Linked DNA regions of Homo sapiens. The protein of the gene in region 2 interacts with the protein of the main gene of each other region in a pairwise test. Each region holds a gene or a part of one and is shown on either strand. Other genes may lie near its edges.

Region 1 (2,302 bases), on a different chromosome or scaffold from region 2:
ACCAGGGACATGGGGCTTCAGAAACCACCATCACTGATCCCTGGGTACACCTCCAACATGCAGACCCCTCCTGGACTCAGCCCGCCATGCTTGGGTCAGGTGACCTCCCACATATATACACACACACGCACACGCATACACACACCCCTCTGGAGAGCTGGACACTGCCCACCAGTTCCCATTCCCGAAACTTCCATGCTGGCTGTCTGGACACAACCTCTGTCTGCCAGGATCCCAGGCACCCAGGTCCCAAGTCTGAGAAGCCATGCAGAGGAGCTGCCCCTCCTGCACTCCAGGCCCCATCAGTTGGTCATTTTCTGTGACTTCCTCGGCAACTCCAGGCCCCTCCTCTCCCATGGCCACAGCCACGACCATGGCCTCCCATCAATGAGACTGTAGCTGTTGCACCCACACTCCTTGAAGATAAAGGCCGCCACGGATCTACCCCTACCCACACGGCCTCCTCAGGCACAGGTGGCACCCTCGCCGCAGTCACACACTCTCCAATAGTTTGGTTAGATGGTTGGTGCCCTCACCGGCCAGGAGCCTCTCAGGGTGACCCCACCTTCCTGGCTCCTGGGCTCCGCAGCTGCTGCCATACCTCTGGCATAGCTGGAGTCACCCGTACCGTCGCTGTCTGAGTCGGACTCTGTGGCCTCTGTGCGCAGTGGGGGCAGGATGCCGTCCCCCTCCACCACGGCCTCCCTCAGCAGCAGCGAGTCAAACTTGACTGTGTAGTAGCCGTTGTCCACATCTGGGGGCAGAGACAAGCTGCAGGTCAGAATCCTTGACAGCAGGTGCCACTGAAGGGAACCACCCTGGACATGAGGAGCAAGGCAGGGCAGAGGCTGAGGGTAGGTGTGCTCATTTCGGGCCCAGAGCCAGAGTCCCGACACTCAACCCAAAGGAAGCAGGGAGCAGCCACACAGTGACAACACACGTGGGGCCTGGGAGGGTGTTCCCGGGAGGCCCCCACGGCCAGCCTCACCGGTGATGCGTGCTGCGTGCCAGAGGCCATCCTGGTGCTTGGCCAGACACGCAGAGCCGGCCTGCAGGGAGCTCAGGTCTGGGTCCTGGAAGGGGCGCAGCTCATCCAGAGAGACCACCTGCCCATGGGAGAACCTGCAGACAGAGCCGTAAGGGGCAGGGCTCAGACATGGGCCACCAGGGGCAAACCAACCCAGGAGCACTGACCCATCCGCCTGGGCACTGTCCTGAGGGAGACAGACACACACGCGTGCGTATACATACACACTCTCACACACTCACGCACACACATACACACGCACACATACACACACACATGCACACACTCACGCACACATACACACATGCACATATACACACGCACATACAGATACACATGCACACATACACTCACACATACACATATATACACACTTGTGCATATACATGCAGGCATATACACACACATGCATATACACACGTACACATACACGCATACGCACACGCGCATATACACATGTACACACACATGCACTCACACAGGCACACACAAGTACACATACACACGCATAAACATGCACTCACATGCATACACACACGCATATACATACGTACACAGGCATACACACACATATACAGACATACACATATACACATACACAAGTACACATGTATACACATGCATACACACATGCACACAGGCATATACACATGTACACACACATTAACACATGTACTCACACGTCATACACATACACAGAGACCCTGACACGCGTATAAACATGCACTCACACATGAACTCATGCAAATACAGATGCAGTCATACATGGATATACGCACACGCCATCTCACCCACACGCGCGCACACGTGCCCTCACCCACACACATACGCCCTCACCCACACACATGCGCACACAAGCACCCTTACCTACACACATGCGCACACATCTCTCACCCACACACACGCACACACAGGCCCTCACCCACACACATGCGCGCACACACACCCTGACACATGCACACACACACCTCACCCACACACGTGCACACACATGCCCCCTCACCCACACACATGCACACACACACGCCCTCACCCACACACATGCGACCTCTCATCCACACACACGTGCACGCACACATGCACCCGCACCCAAACATGCACACACAGATGCACCCGCACCCACACATGCACACACATATGCAGTCACCCACACGCGCACACACATGCACCCTCACGTGTAGACTGTCACGTGCACTCACTCATATATGCATATACACATACATGCACACACATGGCATGCATATACACACATGCATATACACACTCACACTTGCA
Region 2 (3,500 bases):
CTCAATAGTCTAATAACCATCATCTTCAAATATTACAGTCATACAATTTTAAAGTGTTAAACTAGAAAGATGAGGGCTTTCTCTGTTTGCTAGTGAGGACTAAACTCTGATTTTTTTTATCTTGCCCAAATTCCTATCTAAGGGGTCTGGGGAGTCATGTCCTACAAATCACAAATTCTCATCAGATGGGTTTTATTTAACCCTATATATCATGACTTTCCAACCTGACTCTGGCATAACATTATGAGACAAGAAAGAAAATAAAAATACTTTACCCCAAAATATGTTTCTTTGCCATATTTTGAAATGGCCCTGCAAAGCTGTTCTTTGTGGGGGAAAATCTGCATTTGTAAAGAATCTCTACTAACATAGCTAGATCTTTTTCTTCGAGACCCTCCTAATCCTAAAGAGATTAACTAAGATCTGAATAGGAAACATCTGTCATCTATTGTCTCTAAGGCAGCCACCATAAGACTTCAAAAGAACTTGGATGTCCACAATCTTTACCTTAACCTGAACATTCCCTTTCTATCAATCCCAGGTCTTTATCAATCAGAAAATGTTTAAATTCACCTATAGCCTGGAAGCCCCACGCCCCCCAGCTTTGTCCCACTTTTCTGGACCAAACCAATGTATTTCTTAAATGTTTTTGATTGATGTCTCACACCTCTCTAAAATGTATAAAGCCAAGCCGCACCCAACTACCTTGGGCACATGTTCTCAGGACCTCACTCATATTTGGCTCAGAACAAATCTCTTCAAATATTTTGCAGAGTTTGACTCTTTGTCGACAGTAGCATTCTGTCCACTTATAAGATTGTTTTAAAAAGTATTACTTCTTTTTCACTCCAATTGCAGCAAATCCCTCAGGGACCACATACAGATACAGCACTTATCAGGGCCACTGAGTTTACACAATGTCACTGGGTATATAAAATTCACGTTGTTTATTTTCCATGGGAATGGCCCCAGGACTTATAGAATCTGGTAGCCTTGCATACATTGTAGCAACCACTAAAAAATAGCTAGACAAACCCACTGGAAGCTTCAATCCATCACCAGAGTGGAGCCAACTTTCCTTACCATTCCTCTCTACTGGCAGCCTTTACGATGCCGTAAATTCACTCCTTGACTGGGTACTGCAACTGGAACCAGGCTCAAAATCAGCACCTCTTTCTTAGCACATTTACTTAACAAATAAAAAAATTAAAAAAAAACCTTTTAAGATGTAGACTGAAAGAGCAGACTGAACAGTCTCTCAGTGGGAGCTGCCACAGCACTAAGCCCTAACAAGAAGCTTCTCACCTACAGAATCAGAAGACTGCTGTGGCCAGGGAAGATAAAAGGCAATCTGCTCTAGCCCTCAGGGAGGGTCCAGGAGCCATCTTAAGCCAGCCTGTTAGAGTCCTCCTACTTTGGGGGAAGGGAGGGGAACTTTCTCTAGTAGAGACCTGCCAAAGATAAGGGGCAGCTAAGGCAGACACAGAGGCAAGGCCAAAAGCCATGGGTGAAGACGCTTTGGCAACTCAGCCCTCATCCTAAGCTCAAGGAAAGGTTAGAGGAATTTGAAGCCAGTGGGATGGAAGGTACATACACAACAACAAAACCCAGACCCACCTTAACTCCCCAACAATGAAAACCCAGCGGAAAAAGAGGAGTGGCCATTCCTGAATATAACACTATCTACCCACCTCATTCCCCTCTACAGAGAGGGTACGCATGGCCCAGAGGCCAAAGGTAGCCCATGACCCGTTTCTGTACAGCCTGCAAGCTAAGAATGGTTTTACTTTTTTTTTCTTCTTCTTCTTCTTCTTTCCTCCTCCTCCTCCTCCTCCTCCCCCCCCCTCCTCTCCTCCTCCACCACCTCCTCCTCCCCCCCCCCTCCTCCTCCTCCTTTTGGAGACAGGGTCTTGCTCTGTCTCCCAGGCTGGAGTACTCTGGTACAATCATGGCTCACTGCAGTCTCAATCTCCTGGGCTCAAGCCATCCTCCCACCTCGGCCTCCCAAGAAAGAGGGACCACAGAACATGTGGCCACGCCCAGTTAATTTTTCACATTTTTTTGTAGAGACGGTGTCTCACCACACTGCCCAGGCTGGTATCAAACCCCTGGGCTCAAGCAATCCTTCCACCTCAGTCTCCCAAAGGGCCAGAATTAGAGGCATGAACCATTGCAGCCTGCCAGGTTTTACATTTTTTAAGGGTAATTTTTTAAAAGTAAAAACCAGAAGAATAACATGCAACAGGGACTACACGTGGCTCTCAAAACTCAAAATATTTATTTGGCCCATTACAGAAAAAGTTTTTTGACCTTGCCTACTGCCCTCCACACAATGTCCAACACTGAAATCAAAAATTACAATGAAGAGGCAATGGAGGCCAGGCGCAGTGGCTCACACCTGTAATCCCAGCACTTTGGGAGGCCAAGGCGGGCGGATCACGAGGTCAGGAGTTTGAGAACAGCCTGGCCAACATAGTGAAACCCCATCTCTACTAAAAATATAACAATTAGCTGGGTGTGGTGGCGCACGCCTGTAATCCCAGGTACTCAGGAGGCTGAGGCAGGAGAATCCCTTGAACCCAGGAAGCAGAGGTTGCAGTGAGCTGAGATTGCGCCACTGCACTCCAGCCTGGGCAACAAAGTGAGACTCTGTCTCAAAAACAAACAAACAAACAAACAAACAAACAAACAAAAGAAGGCAAAGGAAACAAAAGGCTCATTGTCAAGTGACAATCAACAGAAGCAGACACACAGATAACCTGGAATAATAATACAGGAATTTCAGAAAAAGAATCTGAAATAAATATGATCAATAGATGGGAAAACACTGTTTTAAGGTACTTACACTATACCTGAAGCAGCGGATTATTATTTAAAGGTAAACAGTCATGCAATGTATAACATTTCAGAGAGCTTCATTGTCAAATTCTATCAAAAAATTAGAACAGAAATAATAGAAATTTTAAACAAGTCTTCCAGAAAACAGAAAAGGAGGAAATAAGTCAACTTTTTTTTATGAGGCCAGAATTACACTGACACCAAAACTAGATAAAGATGTTAAAATAAAAGAACAGACCAATATCCCTCATAAACAAAGACACGAAAATCCTAAACAAAAAAATAGCAAATTGCATTCAGCAATATATAAAAAGGATAATACTTCACAGCCAATAGACACTTATTCTAGGAATGGAAGGCTGGCTCATTATTTGCAAATCAGTCAACATCACCTACCGTAACAACAGACTAAAGAAGAAAAAAAAAATTATCTCTTCAATAAATGCAGAAAAGCCTTTTGACAAAATTCAACATCTGTTCATAACAGTAATAATAATAATAAACCCTCAACAAAACAGGAATAAAAAGGAACATCCTGAACCAGATTAGGGGCATCTACAAAAAACACACAGCTAACATCATACTTAATGATAGAAGACTGAATGCTTCTTTCCTAAGATGACGTACAAGGCAAGAATATCCTATCACCCCTATTCAAAATC
Region 3 (3,500 bases), on a different chromosome or scaffold from region 2:
CCCATCTCTACTAAAAATACAAAAATTAGCCAGGTGTGGTGGCTCACGCAGCTACTTGGGAGACTGAGACAGGAGAATCACTTGAACCCAGGAGTTGGAAGTTGCAGTGAGCCAAGATTGCGCCACTGCACTCCAGCCTGGGCAACAGAGCAAGACTCTGTCTCAAAAATAATAATAATACATAAAATAAAAAAATAAAGGAGGAAAACTTGGACACAGACACAGGAAGGCAGCTAGCCACAGGAAGACAGAGGCAGAGATTGGAGGGATGCTGCCACAAGCCAAGGAACAGCTGGGGCTACCAGACTGGAAAAGGTACGGAAGGATCTTCCCTACAGGTTTCAAAAGACGCGTGGCTCTGCCCACACCTTGATTTGGGACTTCTTGCCTCCAGAACTGTGAGAGAATGCATTTCTGTTGCCATAAGCCACCCAGTCCATGGTACTTTGTCATGGCAGCTGCAGGAAGTGAACACACTCCCAGCACTGCCCTGCCTGCAGTGCCTGGCCTGCTGCTCACGCATGCTCCCGCTTACCGTCACTGCTCTGCTGAGTCACCATCACCACGTCGGCTTTCTCCAGTGCCAATTCATCATTCTCTCGGGGCTTGTAGGCTCGAAGGCACTGTACCTGGGGGGAGTCTTTGGAAGAGAAGAGTGTGAAGAGAGGTTAGGAGAGGCAGGGGATTGGAACACAGACAGGGACTTGGAGGGGGGTGGCGTGGGAGGACTTGAGATAGAGACAGATTTGGGCTGTTGAAAGTCACAGACAAAAGAGGAAATTTGAAAATGGTTAATAAAGAAATAGACATACCAGAAATGAAATGGACCAAAAATTCCACTTCTCCAGAGGAGACGGGTTGAGAAATACATGTGATCATCTCAAATACCTGAGATCCAGCTAATGACCCATCTTCCCTCTGAAACCGTCCCTGACTCTAGTCTTCAATGGGTTCTGAACTCTTTTAAGACTGCTTGTTCATGCCAAGGCATTTATCCCTTATTTAACTGCTACATGGACGTGTTTTGCCTCTCCAACTGGATTATAAAATCTGAGTCTGTGTCTTATTCTTCATTTTCTTCCCAGTACCAGATGTGGAACCAAGAAAGACTTAACTAGTGGTGTCCCAGGTTTGACCTAAGCCAGAGACTGAAAGCCCTGGAGCTTCAGTTTACTCATCTATCAGTGATCAAGATGGTTATTGATCAAGGTTGATCAGATGAATCTTGAGGACATTCAAGATTTCTCTATTTCTATGTTTTTGAGAACCAGGAGACATGTCCATAGATCTGAAGCTCAAGAAAACAAGCCTCAGAGAATGCTTCACCTATCAGTATTCCATCATATGTGGGTTTATGGCTCTTTTTTGTTACTACACTGCCTTGATTCTCTTGTAAAATAAATGGAATACTGCATTACTATTTGCTTTCTCAAGATCCTCCCCATCTGCCATTCACAAGGTCAAAATGAAGGAGGAAGAATGCTCCTGCCCTCCTCACCCACTGGGGAACTGAAGCCAGCAGATGGAGTGCACAGTGAGCAAGTTAACAGCGTTCAGTTACTACACGGCTCTCCTACTTCATTCCCAGGGTTCCTTGTAGTTGTTTGTTCTTTTCAGTCACTAAAGGTCCAGGGTTGAGGTCAGATTCTCTCTGGATTTAAATTAGGGAATCTTTGCTGGAGGACAACTGTGGGGCTGACATGAGAGGCATAAGAAGTCCAGTCTTGGTGTGAACACAGACACATACATAATGTGTGTGTGCCTGTGGCTCCCCATGGGCACCCAGAAGCCTGGGGTAGGTGACCTCAGGTCATCCTCTTAGGTGTGGTCAAGATAGATCTGGGGTGCTATCCTCCTGCACACCTTCTACCACCGTCAGGCTTTCTTCCCCTACCCCAACAAGACCTTCAAGCAGGTAAAATCTAGGCAAAATAATGTCAGCTTAGACTTAAGGGGACAAATATTTTTAAAAAGAGCAAACTATTGCCCAAGGAAGGGAATGTATGGGGAAGGGGGACTGCCATAGTGATGAGCAGTTTTAGGCGATATATTTCAGGTTTTTAAGCTCTAGAGGCCAATCTTCCACCCTGACATTTTACGGAATATCAATAAATGAAAGCCTAGAGTTCCCACCCAGCCCTTTAAACTCCTGTATCCAAAGGTGACATCTGACCCTGCTTTCTTTTCTCTCCCTCTTAGACCCTCACTCACTGTAACACTCCAGAAGGTCCAACTCCTCTCTTGGCATGGCCAAGGCTGAGATCCACCGAAGCTTTTCACTTCTGAGAAAACAAAGCAGGGTCATAGCATCAATTGTGGGGGTGTAGGAGGAGGGCCAAGGATGGGGATGGCAAAAGACTGTGGGAAGGACTTATCTAGTTCCATGACTTCTATCAAACACTATATAGGACTCTTTTTGGTTGGAAACATGACACAATCTTGAACTATATGTGAATGTGTCTTGTCACACTTTACTTTTCCTCTTCTCTTTCCAGAATTATCCTCCTAATGGCTTCTCATATCTTCCAAGTTGGGGCGTAATGTTCATTAGTCATAAAGTCTGGAGATTTTCTGTTTTGGAAATTGTGCTAAGCGAAGTGTTCATTTCAGTTTAGATTCCCTCCATCATTTGGCATGATTCTTGACACTCGCTTGCCTATCTCCCTTCAACTAACTATCTCAGAGATGATCATTGTTTCATAATAATAATTAGATCAGGGAGATATGTCTACTGTTTTATTTGTTGTTGTTGCACGGTGTAATCCAAGCTTAGGTTTGTAATCATCTGAAGGTTTCTGCATTCTGTTAGCCTCTGTGCCCAGTTGTGCCTAGGTAACTGGGAATGGACTATTACTGTTCCAGGCACAGTGCCCAAAGCACCAAACCAACAACATGCATCTGCACCTGATTATTTGACTTATGTGCTGTTTTGCACACAAACTCCGATACTAGTCCTTCTGTTCAATAAATGAGAACAGGTGTTATCGGTCCCACTCTGAAGTATCTTCCAAGGGACAAAACTGAAAAAGTGTCTACAACATAGGGATCCTCAAACACTTAGATACGTCAAACTTTTAAATGACTGTTCATATATCTTTTATAATAGCAATAACAGCTACAGGCTTTTACATGTTCATTATTGCAGGCACTGTGTTCCAGATTTTATAGGTACTATTAATACTCTCAAAAATGTATGTCTGTGTGAATGTATTTTATTTTATTATTATTGAAAACATGAGCAAATCAGCATTCTCAACACTATGGATTTCTGGTCAATAGAGGACTGGTTTGGAAGATGGGAGCACAGAAAGTAAAAGTCACCCAGCACTTGTCTTATTCACATCTGTGCCCACCAGCTGGGGCATAGAAGGGTTTCTGCCTCAGGCATGGAGGCATGTGCTCACAGATACCAGTATTCCAATTCCTTGCTCACTCCATACCAGTCCTTCTCCTTTCTGATACTACACAGACCTTGTCCCTCTTGAGTAAAGAGTATAAAA
Region 4 (4,010 bases), on a different chromosome or scaffold from region 2:
TCATTATCAATGAAAAAACAGAGAGGGACAGCAGCTTGCCTGAGGTCTCACAGTAAGTAGGAGGTGGAGCAGGTTGTACAGCCCAGCCCTGCCTGCTTCCTGCCGCACTAACTGGGGGCCTGGATCTAAGGGGTAAGGAGACCCATCAGTGCTCCTGGGGGGAGATTGGAGGATCAGGGAAGCCTCCAGCCGCCCACTCGCCCGCCTTACCCTCACTGGGCCTCCGGACGAGCGAGTAGGCGGGACTGGCCACCCTGGTGCAGTCGTGGTTGATGAAGCCCACGGTGGACGGCAGGACATACAAGCCTGGCCCCGAGCCTGCAGCCCAAAGCCCTCAGGTCACCTCCTGGGCCCAGATTCCCCGAAGAAGGAGCCCTGGACCCAGCTCCTGAGCCTTAGCCTGGGTTCCCCTCTCCCTCCATGGTGAGGATTGGGGGCCCCGGGGAGCAAGAGGCTGCTGCCCGTCGGGGACAAAATGTGATGCCTGCATTGTGAGTCAGACATGAATCACAGAGGAAAAGCTGGGGACAGCAGCCCCCCTCACCCTGGGGCACAGACAGGGAGACTGGGGCCTGAGCCTCCCAGAGATACACGGTCACAGGTGGGGAAACTGAGGCCTGAGCCTCCCAGAGATACACGGTCACAGATGGGGAGACTGAGGCCCAGGCAGAGATACACGGTCACAGATGGGGAAACTGAGGCCCAGGCAGAGATACACGGTCACAGATGGGGAAACTGAGGCCTAGGCAGAGATACATGGTCACAGATGGGGAGACTGAGGCCCAGGCAGAGATACATGGTCACAGATGGGGAAACTGAGGCCCAGGCAGAGATACATGGTCACAGATGGGGAAACTGAGGCCCAGGCAGAGATACACGGTCACAGATGGGGAGACTGAGGCCCAGGCAGAGATACACGGTCACAGATCGGGAAACTGAGGCCTGAGCCTCCCAGAGATACACGGTCACAGATGGGGAGACTGAGGCCTGAGCCTCCCAGAGATACACGGTCACAGATGGGGAGACTGAGGCCTAGGCAGAGATACATGGTCACAGATGGGGAGACTGAGGCCTGAGCCTCCCAGAGATACACGGTCACAGATGGGGAAACTGAGGCCTAGGCAGAGATACATGGTCACAGATGGGGAGACTGAGGCCCAGGCAGAGATACATGGTCACAGATGGGGAAACTGAGGCCCAGGCAGAGATACACGGTCACAGGTGGGGAAACTGAGGCCCAGGCAGAGATACACGATCACAGATGGGGAGACTGAGGCCTGAGCCTCCCAGAGATACACGGTCACAGATGGGGAAACTGAGGGCCAGGCAGAGAAACACGGTCACAGATGGGGAGACTGAGGCCCAGGCAGAGATACACGGTCACAGATCGGGAAACTGAGGCCCAGGCAGAGATACACAGTCACAGATGGGGAGACTGAGGCCTGAGCCTCCCAGAGATACACGGTCACAGATGGGGAGACTGAGGCCCAGGCAGAGATACATGGTCACAGATGGGGAAACTGAGGCCCAGGCAGAGATACACGATCACAGATGGGGAGACTGAGGCCCAGGCAGAGATACACGATCACAGATGGGGAGACTGAGGCCTGAGCCTCCCAGAGATACACGGTCACAGATGGGGAAACTGAGGGCCAGGCAGAGATACACGGTCACAGATGGGGAGACTGAGGCCCAGGCAGAGATACACGGTCACAGATGGGGAAACTGAGGCCCAGGCAGAGATACACGGTCACAGATGGGGAAACTGAGGCCCAGGCAGAGATACACGGTCACAGATGGGGAAACTGAGGCCCAGGCAGAGATACACGATCACAGATGGGGAGACTGAGGCCTGAGCCTCCCAGAGATACACGGTCACAGACGCCATGTGTTGTGGCTTCTGCAGAATCTCGATGCCACAGGGATCAGGAGAGACCACAGAACCAGCCCGAGGACCTGGCTTGGGGCCTGACTCCAGCCGCTAATTGTGGGTGAGGAAACTGCGGCCCGTCCTGGGCCCTCACCGAGGCCAGCAGCTGATGTGGCTCCCAGCAGAGCCGCCTCCGCACACGCGCCCCTCGCCCTGCCCCACGTTGTCTAGGGCGCCCGTCCCTGAGGGCCACGCTGGAAATATTCCCTCCTCCCCGCGTCTCCCGCATGATCGCTGTGGCTTTGCCCACTGCTGTACCCACAGCCCCTGGAAGGGGACCCGGCTGGCAAAGCACGCAGCTTCCGTTGGACAGACACATACTCGGGGCTCACGGCAACCCCGTGTCCACACCCATCCTGCCGGAAGGAAAACTGAGGTCTGGGGAAGGGCAAGGACTTGCCTGAAACTCCTGCCTCCTGCTGGGCTCCCAGAACATTCCAGAAGCCCCAGAAGTATGGGGAGTGGAGCAGGAAAAGGTCCCACCCATCCCCCACGGCTGGCACGCACCGTTCTCCAGGGTGGCCGTCCCACAGGACTTCCTCAGGCCGGTCTCCGGAATCTGGCCCTCCGTCACTCGCCGGCCAAGGGGGGCTGTGGCCAGCCGTGGGGTGGAGTCGCAGCTGAGGGTCCCCATGGTGGGCAGGCGATGGCCCCCACAGCACCCACGGGGCCTGGTGCTACCTTCTGAGCCGCAGCAGCTCTGGCGGCCACAGGCCCAGGCACCGTCCCCACCTTCACGGCCTCACCACACCCTCCCACGACCACAGCCGCACAGACGGCCTCTTGTCCCGCAGCAGGGAGTCGTGGGGCCCTGGCCCAAGGCAGGCTGGTCGGCCGGACACTGGCCTGGAAGTGGGGCCGGGATCGAGTGTCGGCCAGGCGGCTGGATGGTCCAGGAAAGAGTCCGGTGTCAGCAGAGTGCGTCTCCCGGGAGCCGGCAGAGCTGGGCAGCTGGGGCCAGGGCCGGCCCCAGGGAACTAGACCTGCAAACATGACACCCACAGCCTTGCAGCAGGAGGGCCTGGCGGGGTCGTGGGTGGCGTGGCCCCGTTTCTACACCTGGGGAAACTGAGGCACAGCCCAAGGTCATACAGCAAGTACACAACTCTGGGAGTTTCAGCTCTGAGCCAAGAAGCATTCACTGCCTCATCCTGTCACTCATTCCTGCCAAAGCATGTACTGGGCACCTACTGTGTACCAGCCTCTGTTGGGGGTGGTGAGAACTGGACACGAACAGACGGAAAAGAAGGAGATGTTCTCAGGATGGGAGAGAGAAAGTCGTCAGTAAATGTGATAAGTGAACACAGTCTGGTGTATGAGGAGGCACTGAACGTGAGGGAAAACGCAGACAGGTTTGGGGCCCAGGGTAGCAGTGTGGGTGTGGGTGAGCCCCACGGAGAAGGTAAAACTGAACAGTCCCAAAGCAGGTGAGGAGGCAGCCGTGCAGAGGCCCTGGGGCAGCGGCGAGGACAGCGGGGAGGTGAGAGCCGTCCTCACTGCCTCCCAGATGCCTCCGAGATTTAAACCACAATGGATTTTGATACATTCAAGGCGACCACTGCGTGAGGCTCCAAGAAGAGGCTCAGAAAACTGCCAGATGAGATGCACGTTCCTGTCTCTTCCTTGTTTGTTTCTGTATTTTTTGGAGCCTTTTGCAGTGTAATTTTTTTTTTTTTTTGAGACAGAGTCTCACTCTGTCACCCAGCCTGGAGTGCGCTGGTGCGATCTCGGCTCACTGCAACCTCTGCCTCCCGGGTTTATGCGATTATCCTGCCTCAGCCTCCTGAGTAGCTGAGATTACAGGCACCCGCCACCACGCCTGACTAATTTTTATATTTTTTAGTAGAGATGGGGTTTCACCACGCCTGGCTAATTTTTTTTTTTTTTTTTTTTTTTTTTTTTTGAGACAGAGTCTTGCTCCCCCGCCCAGGCTGGAATGCAGTGGCGCGATCTCGGCTCACTGGAACCTCCGCCTCCAGGGTTCAAGAAATTCTCCTGCCTCAGCCTCTCGAGTAGCTGGGATTACAGGCATGCACCACCACGTCTAGCTAATTTTTTTGTATTTTTAGTAGCTAATTAC

The links. Proteins that work in one complex are often made in the same cells at the same time.
Region 1: the proteins of HSF2BP (region 2) and ZGPAT interact in binary tests that used the Homo sapiens proteins (3 or more experiments, as listed by UniProt).
Region 3: the proteins of HSF2BP (region 2) and ARHGEF5 interact in binary tests that used the Homo sapiens proteins (3 or more experiments, as listed by UniProt).
Region 4: the proteins of HSF2BP (region 2) and CIMAP1D interact in binary tests that used the Homo sapiens proteins (3 or more experiments, as listed by UniProt).

Annotation. Positions count from the first base shown.
Region 1 is NC_000020.11:63,732,039-63,734,340, reverse strand, and holds part of ZGPAT (zinc finger CCCH-type with G patch domain-containing protein), read right to left. Parts: intron 1,123-2,302; coding exon 989-1,122; intron 755-988; coding exon 602-754; intron 1-601. UniProt on the Homo sapiens protein: Transcription repressor that specifically binds the 5'-GGAG[GA]A[GA]A-3' consensus sequence. Represses transcription by recruiting the chromatin multiprotein complex NuRD to target promoters.
Region 2 is NC_000021.9:43,530,489-43,533,988, forward strand, and holds part of HSF2BP (heat shock factor 2-binding protein), read right to left. Parts: intron 1-3,500. UniProt on the Homo sapiens protein: Meiotic recombination factor component of recombination bridges involved in meiotic double-strand break repair.
Region 3 is NC_000007.14:144,375,902-144,379,401, reverse strand, and holds part of ARHGEF5 (rho guanine nucleotide exchange factor 5), read right to left. Parts: intron 2,283-3,500; coding exon 2,212-2,282; intron 641-2,211; coding exon 536-640; intron 1-535. UniProt on the Homo sapiens protein: Guanine nucleotide exchange factor which activates Rho GTPases. Strongly activates RHOA. Also strongly activates RHOB, weakly activates RHOC and RHOG and shows no effect on RHOD, RHOV, RHOQ or RAC1.
Region 4 is NC_000019.10:472,184-476,193, forward strand, and holds the start of CIMAP1D (protein CIMAP1D), read right to left. Parts: upstream 2,801-4,010; 5' UTR 2,565-2,800; coding exon 2,438-2,564; intron 449-2,437; exon of another isoform or gene 319-448; coding exon 211-318; intron 126-210; exon of another isoform or gene 1-125.